Linked DNA regions of Homo sapiens: all the other regions are reported to be linked to region 1. Evidence: microRNA targets listed by miRTarBase, many of them from high-throughput screens and not tested one by one. Region 1 holds a microRNA gene; each other region holds the end of a gene's coding sequence.
The links. Region 1 holds the annotated microRNA hsa-miR-650 (AGGAGGCAGCGCUCUCAGGAC, at 2,677-2,697, opposite strand). A microRNA usually pairs through its seed, bases 2 to 8, with sites in the 3' UTR of a target mRNA and lowers its output. Matches are read on the target gene's strand: a 7mer-m8 pairs with bases 2 to 8, a 7mer-A1 pairs with bases 2 to 7 and ends in A, and an 8mer does both.

Region 2: the mRNA of CRISPLD2 is a reported target of hsa-miR-650. Seed matches in the 3' UTR shown: 7mer-m8 at 2,693-2,699.
Region 3: the mRNA of E2F1 is a reported target of hsa-miR-650. Seed matches in the 3' UTR shown: 7mer-m8 at 1,242-1,248.

The regions. Positions count from the first base shown.
Region 1 is chr22:22,821,340-22,825,487 of GRCh38, reverse strand. MIR650 (microRNA 650) reads right to left here and starts at 2,712; the gene lies at 2,617-2,712. It overlaps LOC105372948 (a long non-coding RNA gene), which reads left to right. Exons shown (of 4, transcript XR_938047.2): 4 at 3,852-4,148. It also overlaps IGL and IGLV2-8.
Region 2 is chr16:84,905,924-84,909,923 of GRCh38, forward strand. It overlaps CRISPLD2 (cysteine rich secretory protein LCCL domain containing 2), which reads left to right. Exons shown (of 15, transcript NM_031476.4): 15 at 665-3,585. The coding sequence ends at 719. Among named protein-coding and RNA genes, the nearest start is that of LINC02176, 20 kb to the right of the region's middle.
Region 3 is chr20:33,673,028-33,677,027 of GRCh38, reverse strand. E2F1 (E2F transcription factor 1) reads left to right here. Exons shown (of 7, transcript NM_005225.3): 7 at 49-1,551. The coding sequence ends at 296. It overlaps NECAB3 (N-terminal EF-hand calcium binding protein 3), which reads left to right and starts at 2,600. Exons shown (of 12, transcript NM_031232.4): 1 at 2,600-2,804. The coding sequence starts at 2,676. RefSeq lists enhancers at 1,573-2,073, 2,744-3,291, 3,292-3,839 and a silencer at 2,260-2,889.

The DNA.
Region 1 (4,148 bases):
CAGTATCCTTCAAATAGAGATCTCCACCTAGAACATATGCGGTGGAATTCTCAAACTTCAAATTACCCTACAAATCAGGGACCGTTAAACCACATCCTGTGGGCCATCCCTGTCCTGCCACCTGTTTTTCCATGGCCCCAGAGCTGAGAGTGGTTTTTATAGGTTTAAATGGTTACACTATAAATGGTGCTAAAAATACCTACAGAATATCCTCAAAGTTGACTCTTGGGAACCACAGACCAAAATCCTTCTTATCTGGACATTTAAGAAAATGTTTACCAAATTATAAAAATAAATAGCACTGAAGTATTAGAGAAAATGCTCAACTTCAAGCAGAACAGGAGAAATCAAAACTAAAAAAAGATAACATTTTTAAATCTGCTAGGTTGAAAAACATTTAAACTTTCCCCAGTGTACTCTGTTCGAATATTTATGGCTGACATTGCGAATTTGTAGATAACCCCTCTAGAGGAGAATCTGAGGACAGTGAGTGAAAATTACAAGCACACATCCTTTTGACTCAGCAATTTGACTTCTAGAAATTTATTCTATGGTCATGTCTACATATAAAATCAAAGGAGTCTACATAAGGATGTTCGCTGCAGTGTTATTTATAAGATCAAAATAGTGATAATAACCATTAAAAGTGAGTTGGCTAAAATTCTACCATAGAATACTCTACAACCTTTGAATGAATGGGGCAGTGCTCTATGCCTAGGATGTCTCAGCAAAGAATAAAAAATAGTGCATGCATGGGATGGTCTTTTACATGGAGGACAAGGACAGGGGCCTTCACTCCACTCTCTCCTTTATCCTTGAGATGATCTACATCTGCCAAAGAGGTTAGGAACTGCGGAAGTCTCCCAGCCAGAGGGAGGCTTCCACAGCCAGAGGGAGGCTTCCACAGCCAGAGGGAGGCTTCCACAGTTCCTAACCTCTTTGGCAGATGTAGCCTGAATGCAGCCTGGCCTGACAGCTTGGCTGCAACCTCGTGATTAACCAGGAGCGAGAATGACCAAACTAAGCTACTCCCAATTCTAGGTGCATCCAAGTCACAAGGTCACAGACATGTGTTCTCTTAGTGTGCTAAGTTTTGTGAGTGTTTTTTTATGCATCAATAGACAATACACTTTGGTTTTTGAAATAAATTTTAGTGTTTATATTTCAGGTACACAACATGATGTTATATAGTAGTTACTTTGTAAATATATATAGTAAACTAGTTACTTTGTTTTAAATATAATCTGTATAATCGAAGTTTAAGGAGCCTAAACTATATATGATAATAGCTGTATTTAACAACTGGCTCAGAAAATTTAAATATTGGACCCAGCTAATGTCCGAATGTGTTCTAAATCAATTCTCACCATTAGATTATTAGGGATTCCAGGTACAAAAGTATTGACAGCCATGAAAATTAGAAATGCTCGATGTCCATGAGGAAGGGAGGTGGACTCAGGTTAACTCTTTCCTGTGGAGCCATTTTGGAATCCCCCATCCTATGGGAAGACCGTCCACTTGTGAGGAGTTTCCAGGACAGGGCCTCAGCGATGTGAGGGGAGGAGAATTCTGCGAGAGCACTGAGCCTGTCACTCAAAATCTCCCCAGCTCAGCAACCTGAGGAATTTCGGCAAAGAGCAGGAGCAATAAAAAGAAAAACAGCAGCATCCTCTTTGTTCTTAATCCCTCAAAAACATCTTCAAGTCTTCTTAAAGTGGTCACTTTAAGCTAGGAGGGCCATCTTCATTAGAGCGTGGTGGACACAGAGTGGAACAAGATGCAATTCCTGGAAACTGGAAGCCATCCCCCTGATGGCTTCTGTCCAGATTGATCTGCATAGTGTGACAGATGGGGGATGCATTTAGAATGAGGATGTTCCTGAAAACAGGAGGGACTGCACCAAGCAGTAAACTCCTTGTCCCTACGTCCCTGCATTGAAGAGCTAGGAATAGTTGCACGTTAAGGGACCAGAGCACACAAGCAAAAGGAAGTTGCCACAGTCCTGAACGAGAAATCACGAGCAGGTTTCCTTTTAGACCTCATGGTGGGAAAGGAGAGGAGCTGAGAGAGGAGAATTGTCAAGGCCATCCTGCAGGAAACCCTTATACAGCGTGAGGAAGCATCTGCAGAGCAAGAAGGGGGCCTGAGAGCCCAGGGCAGGTTTTGATCTTACTTCCTCATTGACTTAAAACACTGTGGAAATTGTTGCTGCCTGCATATGAGCTGCAGTAATAATCAGCCTCATCCTCAGCCTGGAGCCCAGAGACGGTCAGGGAGGCCGTGTTGCCAGACTTGGAGCCAGAGAAGCGATCAGGGACCCCTGAGGGCCGCTTACTGACCTCATAAATCATGAGTTTGGGGGCTTTGCCTGGGTGCTGTTGGTACCAGGAGACATAGTTATAACCACCAACGTCACTGCTGGTTCCAGTGCAGGAGATGGTGACTGACTGTCCAGGAGACCCGGACGCGGAGGGAGGCTGAGTCAGGGCAGACTGGGCCCAGGACCCTGGAAAGGGAGAAACACAGTCTAGTGAGTCAGTGCTGGGCCCAGGTGAGCCTGAGGAGCAGGAGACCAAGGATCAGCCCAGAGGTCCCTGTGGCCCCTTCCCTGGAGGCATCACCTGTGCCCTGAGTGAGGAGGGTGAGGAGGAGCAGAGCCCAGGCCATGGTGGTGACGTCCTGAGAGCGCTGCCTCCTGAGACCCCAGCACTGGGCCTGCCCCCAGCCCTGTCTTATCCCCTCTGCCTCAGAGAAGGGCGGGACCTCCATGCAAATCTGCATCCTGAGCTCCTCTTCTCACCCCACCCTCACTTGGGCCTGGGCTTAGAGACTTCTGCTTCCCTTGACAGCGGGGCTCAGCCAAGGAGACTAAAGTCCCTGATTGTCTATTCTGATGACAGGAAGTTGATTTCTTTGCACGTGATTTGCTCAGGAGAGAAAAATCTGCTGAAGCCCCTCACCTGAGTGAGCTCTTGGCCCTCAGTGTCTCTGCTGTGTGGTGCCTGTGTCTCTGTGACCCTCCAGGCCTGGGCACACCTCGAAGTAACCTCTTTCTGGCACTCATTGCCAGGTTCTCTCTATTCTCAGGAAATGGGGCTGCCCAACCCCACTGGAAGCCTCTGCTGGGTGGCGTTGGTCCCTGGTCTGCCCAGCGGCAGCCTCGTCCCATCCCCACTCCCATGCTTTGTCCTGAAGCATCTGCACCATCAAATCCCTGGAGCACATCAGCCACCCCAGGCAGTGCACCCACATCCACACGGGCACATGTGGGTGGGACCCTGTGAAGGGAACAAGGAGCACCAACCAGGGCCACAGTCCTGAGCCTGAGTCCGCTGCTCCCAATCCTGCCCCTCCCACTCATGAGCAGGTGACTTGTCCTTCCCAGCCTCTGGTTCTCAGCCTGATAAATGGAGACCACAGAGTCCGTTCTGCATACAGGTGATCCATGGGGATATGAGCCAGCAGGGAAAAGGGAAAGTTTGCTAACAGGCCTTTCTATGTGCACCAGAGTGATGTTATCTTGAAAGGTTTATTGAAAGATTTACTTCCATTTTACTGTGATTTATGTGTCAGGTCACAGAGATGCACGTTTCCGGCTTTCTTACTTTCCCCCATCTGAGCACATCCTCAGGACAACCTAAAGCTGACCTCTCTCAACCCTTCGACACTGAAGACACACAGACATTCAATAAAGACATTTTTAGTTTTTCCTCCAAATGCGTTTAATCTTTCTTCATCTTTCCCCATTGCCTATGATGCAACTCTTTTAATGTTCCATATTAAAATAACTATTAAGGGATTCAGGTTCTATTTAAATATTGTAACATACACTATCCTGTCTTCCCATCTAGATTGAGCTATAAAACCATGACAAGTGCATGGAGCAGCTATTTGAGCACCAGGAAAGGAAATGGTACGCAGCAGTTTGGGATGGCCCCAGCAGATGAAATACAACAGAGTCAGTGTGAGACTGCTGGATTTCCTCACTGTCCCCTGGCTGGGACTCCAGACAGCCCCAAACCTGAAGGGGCACAAACCTGAAAACAAAAAGAAGTCCAGAAAGCCCTCTTGTTCAGGATCGAACTTGGGAAAGAAAACTTATTTGGCTCAAAGTGAAGGCTCAGTCCCCTGCACAAGCAGGTGGTTCA
Region 2 (4,000 bases), not on the chromosome of region 1:
GGTCTCGAACTCCTGACCTCAGGTGGTCCACCCGCCTCACTCCCAAAGTGCTGAGGTTACAGGCATGAGCCACCGCGCCTGGCCTAAAGCTCTTTTTTAAAAACCATCTTTGATTAGCTGAAGGATTTAACTCCTCTTGTGAGAGGGCAGTTTTTACTAGCCATGGGACCCTGGGTAAATCTCTTTATTTCCTGGTGTCTCCGTTTCCTCCCCTGTGAACGAGCGATAACAGCTCCCTCAGGAGGAAGGTGGAAGGCGGTGAAGCACCTGGCATATGCAGTAGTGCTGAGATAGCACCTGTTCATCTCTCCCAAGACACCACTGTTCGGGTTGACAGGTGGTAGTGAAACCAAGCAGAATTCTCGGAGGGTGAGTCCAATCCAGACAGACTGGGTCCAGCAGATCCCTGAGTTAAAAGGAAATAACTTAACAGCCTTGACCTAGAATCAGATGGATGCTCATGTGCAGAGAAAATGGGATTTGCCACCTGTTCTCAACTCAAGGCAGGCTCTGTGTCTGGCGGCTTCAAGGAAGTGTCCCTTGGCCATGGCTCTTCCACTACGGGAGCAAGCAGGAGGCACCCAGGTCTCCCTGCCCACCCAGAGTCCCTGCAGGAGGCCCTCCAGATCTCTCAGTAACGGGCCCTCTTTCTTCTTTTTTTCAGCCTGGGGACTCCTCGGGATGGAAAGGCCTTCCGGATCTTTGCTGTCAGGCAGTGAATTTCCAGCACCAGGGGAGAAGGGGCGTCTTCAGGAGGGCTTCGGGGTTTTGCTTTTATTTTTATTTTGTCATTGCGGGGTATATGGAGAGTCAGGAAACTTCCTTTGACTGATGTTCAGTGTCCATCACTTTGTGGCCTGTGGGTGAGGTGACATCTCATCCCCTCACTGAAGCAACAGCATCCCAAGGTGCTCAGCCGGACTCCCTGGTGCCTGATCCTGCTGGGGCCTGGGGGTCTCCATCTGGACGTCCTCTCTCCTTTAGAGATCTGAGCTGTCTCTTAAAGGGGACAGTTGCCCAAAATGTTCCTTGCTATGTGTTCTTCTGTTGGTGGAGGAAGTTGATTTCAACCTCCCTGCCAAAAGAACAAACCATTTGAAGCTCACAATTGTGAAGCATTCACGGCGTCGGAAGAGGCCTTTTGAGCAAGCGCCAATGAGTTTCAGGAATGAAGTAGAAGGTAGTTATTTAAAAATAAAAAACACAGTCCGTCCCTACCAATAGAGGAAAATGGTTTTAATGTTTGCTGGTCAGACAGACAAATGGGCTAGAGTAAGAGGGCTGCGGGTATGAGAGACCCCGGCTCCGCCCTGGCACGTGTCCTTGCTGGCGGCCCGCCACAGGCCCCCTTCAATGGCCGCATTCAGGATGGCTCTATACACAGCAGTGCTGGTTTATGTAGAGTTCAGCAGTCACTTCAGAGATGTATCTTGTCTTTGTCAGGCCCTTCGTCTTCATGGCCCACCTGTTTTCTGCCGTGACCTTTGGTCCCATTGAGGACTAAGGATCGGGACCCTTTCTTTACCCCCTACCCGTTGTGGCTCCCACCCTGCCTCGGACTGGTTTACGTGTCCTGGTTCACACCCAGGACTTTTCTTTGCAAGCGAACCTGTTTGAAGCCCAAGTCTTAACTCCTGGTCTCGTAAGGTTCCACTGAGACGAGATGTCTGAGAACAACCAAAGAAGGCCTGCTCTTTGCTGCTTTTAAAAAATGACAATTAAATGTGCAGATTCCCCACGCACCCGATGACCTATTTTTTCAGCCGTGGGAGGAATGGAGTCTTTGGTACATTCCTCACCGAGGTTAGCAGCTCAGTTTGTGGTTATGAAACCGTCTGTGGCCTCATGACAGCGAGAGATGGGAATACACTAGAAGGATCTCTTTTCCTGTTTTCGTGAAACGACTCTTGCCAAACGTTCCCGAGGCGCCAAGGAGTGTAGTACACCCTGGCTGCCATCACTCTATAAAAGTGCTTCATGAGCCCAGACCAAAAGCCCACAGTGAAATGAAGTACCCTTTTGTAAATAGCATTTTTTTGCAGAAGGTGAAAATTCCACTCTCTACCACCGGGCCAGCCAATAGATCACTTTGGTGAATGCTAGTTTCAAATTTGATTCAAAATATTTCTTAGGTGAAAGAACTAGCAGAAAGTCAAAAACTAAGATACTGTAGACTGGACAAGAAATTCTACCTGGGCACCTAGGTGATGCCTTCTTTCTTTGATTGCCTTTCTAATAAATGCAGAATCTGAAGGTAAATAGGTTTAAAACAAAACAAAAACCCACCCCTTTAAGGAGTTGGTAAAAAGCAGTTCAACTCTTAGCTTGACTGAGCTAAAATTCACAGGACTACGTGCTTTGTGCATTGTAGTCTAGTCGTAATTCATAGGTACTGACTCCTCAGCCCCAAATGTCGGAGAGGAAGAATTCGGTCAGCCTGTCAGGTCGTGAGTCCAGTTACCACCAAACATCTGGGAAACTTCTGGGTGCTGGGTGCTCTGCTGCTGGACTTTTGTGGCTGTGTCTGTGTCTGCAAGATAAATTAGATCGCCCTGTGGGGTTTGCAGAATTAGTGAAGGGTCCAGGACGATCCCAGTGGGCTCGCTTCCAAAGCATCCCACTCAAGGGAGACTTGAAACTTCCAGTGTGAGTTGACCCCATCATTTAAAAATAAAGTCCCCGGGTTCCTTAATGCCTCCTTCACTGGGCCTTCCTAGCAGGATAGAAAGTCCTTGCCCAGAGCAGGACCTGGCTGTCTTTTTTTTTTTTTTTTTTTTTTTCCCGAGACCAAGTTTCACTCTGTTGCCCAAGGTAGAGTGCAGTGGCGTGATCTCTGCTCATTGCAACTGCCGCCTCCCGGGTTCAAGCAATTCTCATGCATCAGCCTCCCAAGTACCTGGGACTACAGGCGTGAGCTACCATGCCCGGCTAATTTTTGTATTTTTAGTAGAGATGGGGTTTCATTATGTTGGCCAGGCTGGTCTCGAACTCCTTACCTCAGGTGATCCACCCACCTTGGCCTCCCGAAGTGCTGGGATTACAGGCATGAGCCACTGCGCCCGGCCATGGACCTGGCTGTCTTTATCATCCCCACAAACATTTTGAAACTGGAATATTTGTCTTCAGAAAATGGAAACAAGACTATAAATGATAAGCCCTGTCCCTAGCACCACCTCTCCTGTGTGTGGAATAGAGGCCCCTCGTGCTACCAACACTTACCCTGTGTTTAAAAAGATCTTGTACCAAGCCAACGGCGTTCCTGGCTCTCCTGCCCACAGGATGAACATTTTCGGCTTCCTTAGGAGTTTTGCCCTACCGTATTCCAAAGCGTGTGCTGGTTTCTCATATTGTCTGTAGGCTCACTCAGCCCGCAGTTTATGTGTGTGCTTTTTTCTATGAAAAATGATGTATTTTGCTACTTCCTGTGTACAAAGTTTTATTGTAAATGTTTTTTGTGCTTTGCATGAACAGGGGCCACGTTGTTGCAATTGTTTCAGTAGAACTGGTTTGATTTCTAAAATGTTCCTGTAACATATCTTTTATGAACAAATCTGAACAATTTGTGAAATAAAACATTGAAAACCATCTTTCAGGCTCTGGACTGTTTTGTGTTGGCTGCTTCTGCTAGGATGTCTCATATACACAGAGATGCTGACAGCCAGGGCCTGGTGGAGACCTCCACCCCATCCGCGGGAAGGAGGGAGGAGCTTGCCAAAATGCAATTTCGGGCTCAGCAAGGCTGGGTTGGGGCCAGGGACTGTGAATTTCTCCCAAGATCCTGGTGATGCGAATGCTGCCAGTCCCCAGATCACACTCTGAGTGGTGGTGGGCTCAAGGCCATTCTGTCTAAGCTCCGGCTGCCCTAACAAAATACCATAGACTGGGTGACTTAACCCACAGAGATATCTTCCTCACAGTTCTGGAGGCTGGAAGTCTAAGATCAGGGTGCCAGCAGCGTTGGTTTCCTCTGCGGCCTCTCTTTGGTTTGCAGGTGGCTGCC
Region 3 (4,000 bases), not on the chromosome of region 1:
CCTCCCTGCTGGGGCATCCCCGGCCTGTGATGCTCCCCGTCTCCCCAGAACCGCTGTTGTCCCGGATGGGCAGCCTGCGGGCTCCCGTGGACGAGGACCGCCTGTCCCCGCTGGTGGCGGCCGACTCGCTCCTGGAGCATGTGCGGGAGGACTTCTCCGGCCTCCTCCCTGAGGAGTTCATCAGCCTTTCCCCACCCCACGAGGCCCTCGACTACCACTTCGGCCTCGAGGAGGGCGAGGGCATCAGAGACCTCTTCGACTGTGACTTTGGGGACCTCACCCCCCTGGATTTCTGACAGGGCTTGGAGGGACCAGGGTTTCCAGAGATGCTCACCTTGTCTCTGCAGCCCTGGAGCCCCCTGTCCCTGGCCGTCCTCCCAGCCTGTTTGGAAACATTTAATTTATACCCCTCTCCTCTGTCTCCAGAAGCTTCTAGCTCTGGGGTCTGGCTACCGCTAGGAGGCTGAGCAAGCCAGGAAGGGAAGGAGTCTGTGTGGTGTGTATGTGCATGCAGCCTACACCCACACGTGTGTACCGGGGGTGAATGTGTGTGAGCATGTGTGTGTGCATGTACCGGGGAATGAAGGTGAACATACACCTCTGTGTGTGCACTGCAGACACGCCCCAGTGTGTCCACATGTGTGTGCATGAGTCCATGTGTGCGCGTGGGGGGGCTCTAACTGCACTTTCGGCCCTTTTGCTCTGGGGGTCCCACAAGGCCCAGGGCAGTGCCTGCTCCCAGAATCTGGTGCTCTGACCAGGCCAGGTGGGGAGGCTTTGGCTGGCTGGGCGTGTAGGACGGTGAGAGCACTTCTGTCTTAAAGGTTTTTTCTGATTGAAGCTTTAATGGAGCGTTATTTATTTATCGAGGCCTCTTTGGTGAGCCTGGGGAATCAGCAAAGGGGAGGAGGGGTGTGGGGTTGATACCCCAACTCCCTCTACCCTTGAGCAAGGGCAGGGGTCCCTGAGCTGTTCTTCTGCCCCATACTGAAGGAACTGAGGCCTGGGTGATTTATTTATTGGGAAAGTGAGGGAGGGAGACAGACTGACTGACAGCCATGGGTGGTCAGATGGTGGGGTGGGCCCTCTCCAGGGGGCCAGTTCAGGGCCCCAGCTGCCCCCCAGGATGGATATGAGATGGGAGAGGTGAGTGGGGGACCTTCACTGATGTGGGCAGGAGGGGTGGTGAAGGCCTCCCCCAGCCCAGACCCTGTGGTCCCTCCTGCAGTGTCTGAAGCGCCTGCCTCCCCACTGCTCTGCCCCACCCTCCAATCTGCACTTTGATTTGCTTCCTAACAGCTCTGTTCCCTCCTGCTTTGGTTTTAATAAATATTTTGATGACGTTTGGGCCGGGTTTTGGGACTCTGTTGGGAACATTTCGGGGCGGGAGAGGCCAAGGTTGCTGGGGAAATGCCCATTCTCCACTTCCCTTCTCCCTGTCCGTGCCCGATTTGATTTGAGCCTCATAACTCGAAGAAAGGTCAGCTTCCTCGCTGTTTTGGTCCTAACTCAAAAGCAGATCCAGTAAAGGTTTTTGTTGTAGAAAGCCAAGAATGCTATTCAGTGCTGCCCGAAGTGCAGAGTAATGAGTGGCCTCTCCTTTCCCCAGCCCCAGAGGCCACTCTGCTCAGTTTGCTGTCTTCCTTCCAGACGTTTCTGGACATTAGTAAACATGTAACAAATACAGTGGGCTGGTTCTGTGTCAGGTATTTAACAGTTCTGGGGACACGGGTGTTACCTCCTTTCATGGTGCTCTCAGGGTCTGAAAGAGGAGATCTGCATAAATGAGAAAATCGGGAAAGGCGTTCTGGAATGGGTGGTGCTTAAGCTGAGCGCTGTAAAATAAGTAGGAGTTAACCAGAGGAAGAAAACACCAAGCAGAGGACACGATGGGCAAAGGCCTTGGGCAGGAGGGAGCGGGATAGAGGACCGGAGAGAAAGCAGTGTGGCTGCGGTCCTGAGGTGAGGGTCAGAGTGGTGCTCCTGGAGTGGGGCGTTCAGTCTTAAGCTTTATTCAGGGGCCAAGGAGTCACTGGAGACCGAAGTGACACCTCCTCTTTCGCATCTTAAAAGCTCCCCCCGGCTGCTGTGTGGAGAACGGGTTGAAGGGAGGGCCAGAGTCACGGAGGGGAGGGGAAAGGGCTGCGCTTAGTGCCAGAGAGGGCGGGCGTCGGGATGCCTGGGATTCGGCCGCACGGACCTGTGGGCTTCCTCTGCGCCAGCCCCCGTTGTAAGCACTTGACATTGAATGAGTCCCAACAATTGCATAGGGTGTCTGCCAGTACCATTTTTGTAGATGAGGATACAGACGCCCCAAAAGGTGAAGTCCTGGTGGGTTTTACCCACTTGTGTCACCCTGACCTCGGCACTGGCTTGGTCATCCTGTCCCTCTGGGTAGGCCCGCAGCCCCTAGGTTCTGCTCCCGACAGGCCGTCGCGGGACCGGAGCCCTCGGGCGCCTCCCCCTCCGCCGTGGCCGCGGAAGCGCGGAGGCCCGCGGCGCTGGAGTTGGACCTTGAGGCGAGGGAACCCGGCGTCCGCGGGGGCGGGGCGGGGGCGGGGCCTGAGCCCGCGCGTCGGCGCCGGCGCCAAGGGGCGGCCTCTAGCCACACCGAGTCCGCCGCGGCGTCCAGGGTCGGCAGCAACCGCAGCCGAGCCCGAGCGGGTGGCGGCGCCATGGCGTGCGCGGGGCTGCTCACCGTGTGCCTGCTCCGGCCGCCCGCGCCCCAGCCCCAGCCCCAGACCCCGCGGCACCCCCAGCTCGCGCCCGACCCGGGGCCCGCCGGACACACGCTCTTCCAGGACGTGAGTGGGCGCGGGCTCTGCTCGCGGTGTCTCCCTACCCGAGTCTCTGTTAGTCTCACCCTCCGGGGTTGTTCGGGCCCCGCCGCTGTTTCTGGGTCTCTTCCCCTCTCTCTGGCCCTGCTGTTTTCTCTTGACCTTTCTGCCCTTGTGTGACCTGTTCTGTCTCTCCATGTCTCCTCTTGTCCCTGCTCCAGTGTCACTGCCCCTGCTGCCTCCCACCCCTCAGCCCACCCCATTTGTGTGTCTGGTGTTGGCGGGGGGCTGGCGACAATCACAGCAGCGGTCACCCCACTCTGTGGCAGCTCCAGGCTGGGCTGACTGGGGAAGGGGAGCCTGGAAACGCAAGGGCCCCTCACTCCTGACTCTAGTGCCGCCCCCAGAGTTCTTCAGGCCCCACTCCAGGGCAGCAGAGTCCTACAGTTGGTAAGGGCTGCTCAGAGTCACCCTCCCATGGGGCCATGGGTGGCCCTGCGGCCACCATGGGCACCAGCCACGGCCCTGAGCCCTTTCTCCACCGTTCACCGCTGTGCTCGGCTCTGTCCTGGCCCCCTCATGCCCCAACTCCAGAGGGAGGCAAAGCTGTCTCCCACCCCCTCCCCACTGCCCCTAGTGACTCAGCACCTTGACCACAGCCCTGGCTGGAAGGGACCTGACCCTCCTTCTTCCCAAGTAGGAAAACCAAGGCCTGAGGGGATATGTCTCAGGTCAGTCATGGAGGCAGGGATACAATAGGGTGACCCCAGATGTCCCCATTCCCAGCTTAGCACCCCTGCCCACTCCCAAGATCTCCATCTACCCTACCTGGGCCTCCCTGGCTTGCTGCGTGCCCCTCAGCCAGTGGCAGACCTTCTCTGAGTTAGGCTAGAGGTTAGAGTCTTTCCTGAGCCCCACTGACCCTGACAAAACAGGACCCTGGAGGGGGCTGGCGTTCAGGACCTGGAGTTCATGGGGGCTCTCGGCCCAGGCTTGGCCCACCCCTGCTTGCCAGGCCTGCCAGTCTCCCCTTTGCTGGGCTGCTTTGGGTGACCTGGGAGCAGGTCACTAAGAGAGACGGGGACCTGTCTTGACTCTGCTCCTCTCTGCCTCTGTTGCTCTTCATCTCCACTTCTCCATAAATGAAATCTGCCGAACTTGCCTTCTGCCACCCCCACTCCCCCTTGGACGTGTGTGTGTACACACACGCCTGCCGAAGGTCC